Linked DNA regions of Homo sapiens: region 1 is reported to be linked to region 2. Evidence: microRNA targets listed by miRTarBase, many of them from high-throughput screens and not tested one by one. Region 2 holds a microRNA gene; the other region holds the end of a gene's coding sequence.

Region 1 (4,389 bases), not on the chromosome of region 2:
GGAGTCTACATACATGGAAAGTAGAATAGTGATTAGGAGGGGATGGGTAGAGGCAGGAATGGAGAGTTATTGCCCACTAGATACAAAATTTATTTGGAATGATGAAAAAGTTCTAACACCAGAGCTGATGGTTATACAATATTTTGAATGTACTTAATACCACTGAATTGTACACTTAAAAACAGTTGAAAATAAATGGGTACAGAGTTTGTCTGGGATGATGAAAAAGTTCTGAAGATAGTGGTGATGGTTGCAACACAATTTGAATATACTTAATGTCATTGAACTGTATACTTAAAAATGGCTACAATGAGGCCAACGTGGTGGCTCACTCCTGTAATCCCAGTACTTTGGGAGGCCAAGGAGGGCAGATCACTTGAGCCCAGGAGTTCAAGACCAGCCTGTGCATCATAGCAAGATCCCTGTCTCTACAAAACAATTTTTAAAATTAGCTGGGCGTAGTGGTGCAACACCTGTAGTCCCAGCTACTAGGGAGGCTGAGAGAGGAGGATCATTTGTGACTGGGAGATTGAGGCTGCAGCGAGCCGTGATTGTGCCACTGCACTCCAGCCCGGGTGACAGAGTGAGACCCTGTCTGAAAACTTAACAAAAGGGCTAAAATCATAAATTTTATGTTGTATTTTACAATAAAAAATTACCCAAAGAAAAAAGTCATACCCCTTCAACAGAGAAAAGTTTTAGGCTTACACCAGGGTTTCTTAACAGTGGCTGACATTTTGTGCTGGATAATTCTTTGTTGTGAGGAACTGTCCCGTGCAGGGATGTTTAGCAGCACCCCTGGCCTTGATGTGGTGACAAGACCACCTCCCCAGGTACTCCAGAAATTGCAAAATGTCACATGGAGGAGGGGGCTACATTCTTCCCCAGCAGAGAACCACTGGCCTGTACTCACTTGCTGACCCCGAGAACATCGTTTGAAACTTTGCTCTGTCCCGTCCTTCAGCTTGGCCCACACAGTCTCCCGTGGACATGGGAATTTTATTGGTTTCATCACATGCCACATGGATGGATACTGTTCAAATAAAGTTACCATGTGAATGTAGTTTCTCCCATGTTCATCCAGTAGAATGATAGAAACTTCTGGAGAAGTCACTTCAGCATGAAGTTTTTTAAAAATTTTTTTATTTTTTTGAGATGGAGTCTCCTCTGTCACCTAGGCTGAAGTGCAGTGGCGCAACCTCGGCTCACTGCAACCTCTGCCTCCTGAGTTCAAGTGATTCTCATGTCTCAGCCTCTCGAGTAGCTGGGACTACAGGCGCGCGCCACCACGCCCAGCTAATTTTTGTGTTTTTGTGGAGACAGGGTTTCACTACGTTGCCCAGGCTGGTCTCAAACTCCTGAGCTCAAGTGATCTACCTGCCTCGGCCTCCCGAAGTGCTGAGATTACAGGCATGAGCCACCGCGCCCGGCCTCTTTCTCCACGTTTTGACTGAGGCCATCTCCATGCATCTTTTCTCTTGACTGGAAATGTGGTGGAATCAAATAAAACAAATTTGACAATGGTTTAACAAAATTGTTTAATAAAATTTATAAAAATGCATCTTTGAGAATACTTTTCTCAGCTTGAATTGTTTTCCTTTTCCACCCCCAAAGAAAATACACAATTATCAGCACCCACACATGTATACACTCAAAACTACAGTGACATTCTCTACACAGAACTATATTCGATATAGCTTGAACTGCCGAAAAATCAAGACAATTCCAAAAAGTGATTGCAGGGTTGATTTTTTTCTCCAAAACACTTGAGAAACAGTAAAGCTATTTCAACAAAAGTCTTTTCTTTGATTGTCAAAAGTTGAAATTCACATTTAAATAAAAAGAGATCCAAATCAAGATCCTCACTACCCCCTACCCCTCAACTAACCCCCTTTAGGGCCACATTTTCTTCTTGCTCCTAAGAAAAAAATTTGGAATTTTGAATATTCTCGGTTTTCTGTGCACACCTGGAATTGGGCAAATGTGTTCAGCTCAGCCAGCATTTTCTGTAGACATCATCAAAAGCAGGCACTTGGGGATTCTGGGCTTTGAGTACAAACCACGGATCTTGTGTCAGAAACACATGTTGAGACTCCTCCATTCCTTCCAGAATTTTCAGAGATGAGGTAGACCCACCTCAATCATCCTCAGCATCAGTTTGCTAAATTGCCAGGCTCAATGACAAGCTCTCCTGCCATCTCCAAGCCCACTTTTCATAGTTCCGCTCTGTCTTTGGCTGCAGCACTTTAGGCACTATTCTAAGTCCTGGAGTATATCACTCTTGCTTCAGAGCTAAATAAACATTAATGAACACACTTACTCAGAACAAGTCACTGGATAGCTGCCCATTGCAAGTTACATACTCAGGAGATGAAAGAGGGAAGCCATTAAAGGTCTTCAGAGTAGACAATACCTAGTCAAGATGTGGCCAGACAAAGACACAAACTTCTTACCCTAAAAGAGCCCAATAATTTCTGCATCAGAGAACTCCTATCTTGGGCAAAGCAACTGAATTCAGGAGTGAGAGTTGATATTAAAACATGGAGGCTGGGCACAGCAGCTCATGCCCACAATCCCAGCACTTTGGGGGGCCAAGGCAGAAGGATTGCTTGAGGCCAGGAGTTTAAGACCAGCTTGGGCAACATAGCAAGACCCCATCTGTACAAAAAAATAAAAAGGAGGCTGGTGGGAGAACTGCTTGAGCCCCAGAGTTTGAGGTTACAGTGAGCTATGATCACATCACTGCATCCCAGGCCTGGGCGATGGAGCGAAACTGTCTCTTAAAAAATGGCAGGGAGTTGGGGAGCTGGGCAGGTGCAGTGGCTCATGTCTGTAATCCCAATACTCTGGGAGGCCAAGATGGGAGGATCACTTGAGCCCAGGAGTTTGAGACCAGCCTGGGTAACACAGGGAGACCCCGTCTCAAATATTTAAAAAATTAGTCATGCGTAGTGGTGCATGCCTGTGGTCCCAGCTACTTGGGAGGCTGAGGTGCAAGGATAGCTTGAGCCTGGGAGGACAAGGCTGCAGTGAGCTGTGATTGCACCACTGCACTCCAGCCTGGCCGATAGAATGAGACCCTGTCTTAAAAAAAAAAAAAAGGCAGAGGGACACACCAGTGTAGTAATGAGCAGAAGCACACAAATTTTTTTTAAAAAATTATATACACAAAACAACAGAACTAGAGTAGCTGACTTCTCCCCTTCTTTTTAAAAGTGAGACAAAATTCCTTAAGAAAATCTGCAAGGTGCTGGGTGAACCTTCTGATGCTAAAGTTGTTCTTCTGGAATATTAAAATTTGGGTATCTTTTGGACATCACCACCATGTAAAGAGTGATGGGAAAAAAAAAAAAGCTTTAAGAAATAAGTCGAAACTTTTCTAACACAAACTTATTAGAGCTATAAAGTGGAGAGAGTATAAAGCTATACTAACTGCATCACTAACCAGTCTCTTTTTTTTCCCCAGAAACTCATCTCAAGGGAAGGGAGCTGAAAAACCACCAGCAACGTGATTTCTGCATTTCCCAGCACATGGGTCTGGGGCCCGCCTCTCTCGAGTCCCCTAGTCGTCCTCGCCGCCTCCGTACATGTCAGCCAGCTTCTTGAAGCGATTGCCCCATTCGTTCAAGTAGTCATAGTCCTGGTCTTTGTCTGACTCTGAGGAGTTCAGGGAGCTCAGACTAGCAGCTTCGGAACCGCTTCCTTCATAGTCAAACACGAGCAGAGAATCATAAGGCGGGGCTGTGGGGTCAGTATCAGCCGCTTTCAGATTCTAAAGAAGAAGGGACAAAAGCATCTTTTAGTGAAAGGAAGGGCACACCTGTCATCTGGGGCAAGAAGTCTAGCAATATGTAAGGTACGACAATGCACCCAGACTTGTGGCACACCACGGAGCAGTGAACACCAACAACGTACATTTATACACACTGTCATGGAAGGATGCAGAAGCACAGGATATGTTGTTGATGGAAAGAGAAAGTGAAATGGTGAGTTATATGTAGGCAGGAGAGATGCAAGCACCAACCAGTCAGGATGGAGTCCCCATAGATCAGAGTGGGGCTGCCACACCACCAGCTGGGATGGGCAGAGCTGGAAGCTTTGCATACTGGTGCATGCAGGCTGCATTTCCACCCAGAAAGGCCTGGAAGGATAAATGCCAAATGCTTAACAGTTAAATCTGGGGAGTGGGGGTGTGGGAACTAAGGAAGGACTTGTATTTTTTTTCTTTTTCTTTTTTTTTAGAGACAGGGTTTCACTCTTGTCACACAGGCTGGAGTGCAATGGTGTGATTTTGGCTCACTGCAACATCTGCCTCCCAGGTTCAAGCGATTCTCCTGCCTCAGCCTCCCAAGTAGCTGGGTCTACAGGCATGCGCCACCATGCCCGGCT
Region 2 (4,389 bases):
GGCTACTCGGGAGGCTGAGGCAGGAAAATCGCTTGAACCCGGGAGGCGGAGGTTGCAGTGAGCTGAGATTCATGCCACTGTACTCCAGCTAGGGCAACAAGAGTGAAACTCCATCTCAAAAAAAAGAAAAAAAAAAAAAAATATATATATATATATATATATACACATTGTCATGCACACAAATATTCTCCAGGATAGACCACAGGCTAGGCCATAAAACCTCAACAGAATTTAAAGAGAAATATACAAGTATGAGTAGGGAGTGGTGGCTGACACCTGTAATTCCAGCACTTTGGGAGGCTGAGGCAGGAGGATGCTTGAGCCCCGGAGGTTGAGAGGCTGCAGTGAGCTGTGAACATGACACTGCACACCAGTCTAGGCAAGAGTGAGACCGCATCTCTATTTGTATTAAATAAGCTATATTAAAAAAAAATTACACTCCTGAAGACCTTTCAGGCAGGGAAATTCTCAGGCAATTTACTCACTGTAGCTTCATGAAATTACCAAGACGCTTATGACTATTTCCGTTAAAATGAATTTTCTAAGTACATTTCCTGGATCAACAGCATCCAGAAGTAAACACAGGAATCTGATTTCATGCTTGTTTAAAAAACTATTAACATTGCCATCAACTTCCTTAGACGATTGCTCTCAAACTGTGAGCTTCAAGCTCTGGAGGTGCTTTTCATCCAGTTATAGAAAAACGCCCCCTGGCTTGAAATCACAGCCTGAGCTTCACTTCCCAAGGAGGGTTTGGGGCTTGAGCATTCTCAGGGTCCATCTGAAATCAGAGTGCAAACAAAAGGCATCCCAGAGCAGTCCACTCTCAATAATAAGCAGAATTAGGCAGAAGTAAGTAGAAGTTTCAAATAAGTTTGCAAACCAACTCAATGGACATCTACTGAACCCTCCCCAACATTCAAATGCACACATAGCATAGGACGGGACAGACGTTATGAGACACATAATACACGAGGCATACAATGGAGAAGGACCAAAGTACATTATGTTCAATCACCACCATAAAATGCAATTAGAAATCATTGTTGAAGACAGGCACGGTGGCTCACGCCTCTTATCCCAGCACTTTGCGAGGCGGAGGTGGGCAGACCACCTGAGGTCAGGAGTTCGAGACCAGCCTGGCCAACATGGTGAAACCCTGTCTCTACTAAAAATACAAAAATTAGCTGGGTGTAGTGGCGGGCGCCTGTAATCCCAGCTACTGGGGATGCTGAGGCAGGAGAATTGCTTGAACCCGGGAGGCAGAGGTCGCAGTGAGGCAAGATCACACTACTGCACTACAGCATGGGTGACAGAGAGAGACTCCATCTCAAAAAAAAAAAACTCTCAAATGGTCAGGCAGGATGGCTCAAGCCTGTAGTCCCAGCACTTTGGAAGGTGGAGGCAGGAGGATTGCTTGAGTCCAGGAGTTTGAGACCAACCTGGGCAACATAGTGAGACCCTGTCTAAATACATAGAGAGATAGGCAGGAAACATGGTGAAACTCCATTTCTACTAAAAATACAAAAAATTGGCCAGGGGCAGTGACTCAAGCCTGTAATCCCAGCACTTTGGGAGGCCGAGGCAGGCAGATCACGAGATCAGGAGACCGAGACCACCCTGGCTAACACAGTGAAACCCCGTCTCTACTAAAAATACAAAAAAATTAGCTGGGCGTGGTGGCGGGCACCTGTAGTCCCAGCTAGTCGGGAGGCTGAGGCAGGAGAATGGCATGAATCAAGGAGGCGGAGCTTGCAGTGATCCGAGATCACACCACTGCACTCCAGCCTGGGCAACAGAGCAAGACTCCATCTCAAAAAATAAAAAAAATAAAAAAATAAAAAAAAATTAGCCGGGCATGGTGGTGCACACCTGTAATCCCAGCTACTTGGGAGGCTGAGGCAGGAGAATCACTTGAACCCAGGAGGCAGAGGTTGCAGTGAGCCGAGATTGTGCCACTGCACTCCAGTTTAGGCAACAAGAGCGAAACCCTGTCTCAAAAAAAAAAAAAGAAAGAAAAAAAGAAAATGCTTAGACATTTACATTGAGACTAAGAAAAATGGCTCCCCAGATCCCAACCCAGGTCTATGGCACCAAACAAAATCTGTGGGTGGGCCCCAACAAGCTGCTTCAGCCAAGCTTCTGGGTTTTTGTCATAAATTTAAGAACCTCTGGGAATGGGGGCACGTGCATCTGTAATACCAGCTACTTGGAGGCTGAGGCAGGATGATCACTTGAGCCCAGGAGGTTGAGACTGCAGTGAGCTATAGTCGCACCATTGTACTCAAGGCTGGAAGACAGAACCCCTGGTCCATGATATCCTGGGTAGAAACCAGGACATCTACTAAATAGATGGACTGGTATGGGGGGCAGAAGGGAAAGGAAACCTTCACAGGAAGCACTTTTTTTTTTTTTTGAGTCTCGCTCTGTCACCCAGGTTGCAGTACAGTGCCATTATCTTGGCTCACTGCAACCTCTGCCTCCTGGGTTCAAGCGATGCTCCTGTCTGCACCTCCCAAGTAGCTGGGATTACAGGCACATGCCACCATGTCCAGCTAATTTTTGTATTTTTAGTAGAGACAGGGTTTCAAGTGCCTCGCCTGCCTCCCAAAGTGCTGGGACTACAGGCGCGAGCCACCCCACCCGCCTTAGGAAGCACATACTAAGGAGCCAAGTTAACTGCAATTCCTGGGGTCTCAGAACAATGTTGCATAACAGACATTTTTGCTTTGCATTAGAGGGATTTTTGCCTAGGAGAGCGCTTAGAAAATGGAATGCATTCAACGTGAGAAAGCTGATTGCAGTGGAGAGAAAAAGAAACAATAGAAAAGCAAAGGCCAGTCCACTGGGTGCATCCATGTGGTGCAATGCGATGGGGGACTGGGGATGGGTTATGATGAGGATTCACAATTGACATCCCCAAAACTGGGTGCACTTTCCTTTCAAACCACAGAAAATGCCCCTCAGTTTTGAGGACCTCAGTCTGAATGTCATGTCTGACTTCAAACTCTTCCTACGTGGTTAACTCACACTAGGGTTCGCTGTCCTCACACTGCAGATGGAGGACGTTCACACAGCACTCATGCAGAAGCTCCCAGCCAGATCTTGAAAAAAAATAACCTCAAAGAATCCTCAGGCTGCCCAGGGAGTTGCTAGGAAAAGGCAGACACACCAGCATTTACACAAATTCAGTTACATCACTAGTGGTAGGTTTCACATAAAAACCTTTGATTTATGAGAAGGCTATGCACATGTTACACATCCAGTCAGAACCAATCATGCACTCTAATCATACACTTTAATTTCAAATTTTTTTTTTTTTTTGAGACAGAGTTTCACTCTTGTTGCCCAGGCTGGAGTGCAGCGGTGCGATCTCAGCTCACTGCAACCTCTGCACCCCATGTTCAAGCCATTCTCCTCGTCTACTCAGTCTCCTGAGTAGCTGGGACTTCAGGGGCCCGCCACTATGCCAGGCTAATTTTTGTATTTTTAGTGGAGATGGGGTTTCACCATATTGGCCAGGCTGCTCTCGAACTCCTGACCTTGTGATCCGCCCGCCTCAGCCTCCCAAAGTGCTAGAATTACAGGCAGGAGCCACGGCACCCGGCCGTTTTTGGTTTTAAATTTCTCAGCATTACCTGTGAAAGAATCCAAGTGTACATTTCCACAGTCCTGTCTATGAACACAGAAGAAGGAGTGATTGGCAGCAAACTGATGCTTCAATGCCATGATAGGAGCAAGTGGGCTTCAAAACTATCCTAATACCTGTCCTTTTTTTTTTTGAGACAGAGTCTCGCTCTGTCGCCCAGGGTGAAGTGCAGTGGCACGATCTCGGCTCACTACAAGCTCCGCCTCCTGGGTTCATGCCATTCTCCTGCCTCAGCCTCCCCAGCAGCTGGGACTACAGGCGCCTGCCACCACGCCCGGCTAATTTTTTTGTATTTTTTTAGTAGAGACGGGGTTTCACCGTGTTAGCCAGGATGATCCACCCGCCTCAGCCTCCCAAAGTGCTGGGATTACAGGCGTGAGCCACCACGCCCGACCAATATCTGTCTTCTTGATGCAAATCCAAGTTTAGCATCCTCATTTGGGCATTCATTTGTTAATCTATTCTGCAGTCTTCTGATCTACCTCTTATGCTACTCTTCTTTGCAATTTTACTGTAAGGCAAGAAATTCCTAGTCTTCAGTAACCTGGAGTTAAGATACCAGTCCCCATCAGTTACAATCAAGGACTCACCTCAGCACTGAAAATGCCTGGGTCCCACACGTCACAGGCAATGTGCCAGTATGTTCTTATCAGACTCCAGAAAGCACTCCCAGATTGCATGTCACCAAGGAGACAGTGATCACAAGCCCCAGGGAAAACCTGCAAGGTAGCATAGAACCC

Evidence for each region. Region 2 holds the annotated microRNA hsa-miR-1323 (UCAAAACUGAGGGGCAUUUUCU, at 2,952-2,973, opposite strand). A microRNA usually pairs through its seed, bases 2 to 8, with sites in the 3' UTR of a target mRNA and lowers its output. Matches are read on the target gene's strand: a 7mer-m8 pairs with bases 2 to 8, a 7mer-A1 pairs with bases 2 to 7 and ends in A, and an 8mer does both.
Region 1: miRTarBase lists CDH1 as a target of hsa-miR-1323. Seed matches in the 3' UTR shown: 8mer at 1,652-1,659.

The regions. Positions count from the first base shown.
Region 1 is chr16:68,832,673-68,837,061 of GRCh38, reverse strand. It overlaps CDH1 (cadherin 1), which reads right to left. Exons shown (of 16, transcript NM_004360.5): 16 at 1,525-3,772. The coding sequence ends at 3,563. Among named protein-coding and RNA genes, the nearest start is that of TANGO6, 8.7 kb to the left of the region's middle.
Region 2 is chr19:53,670,562-53,674,950 of GRCh38, reverse strand. MIR1323 (microRNA 1323) reads right to left here and starts at 2,983; the gene lies at 2,911-2,983. It overlaps MIR498 (microRNA 498), which reads right to left and starts at 754; the gene lies at 631-754. All of the region lies in intron 2 of LOC107985342 (a long non-coding RNA gene), which reads right to left.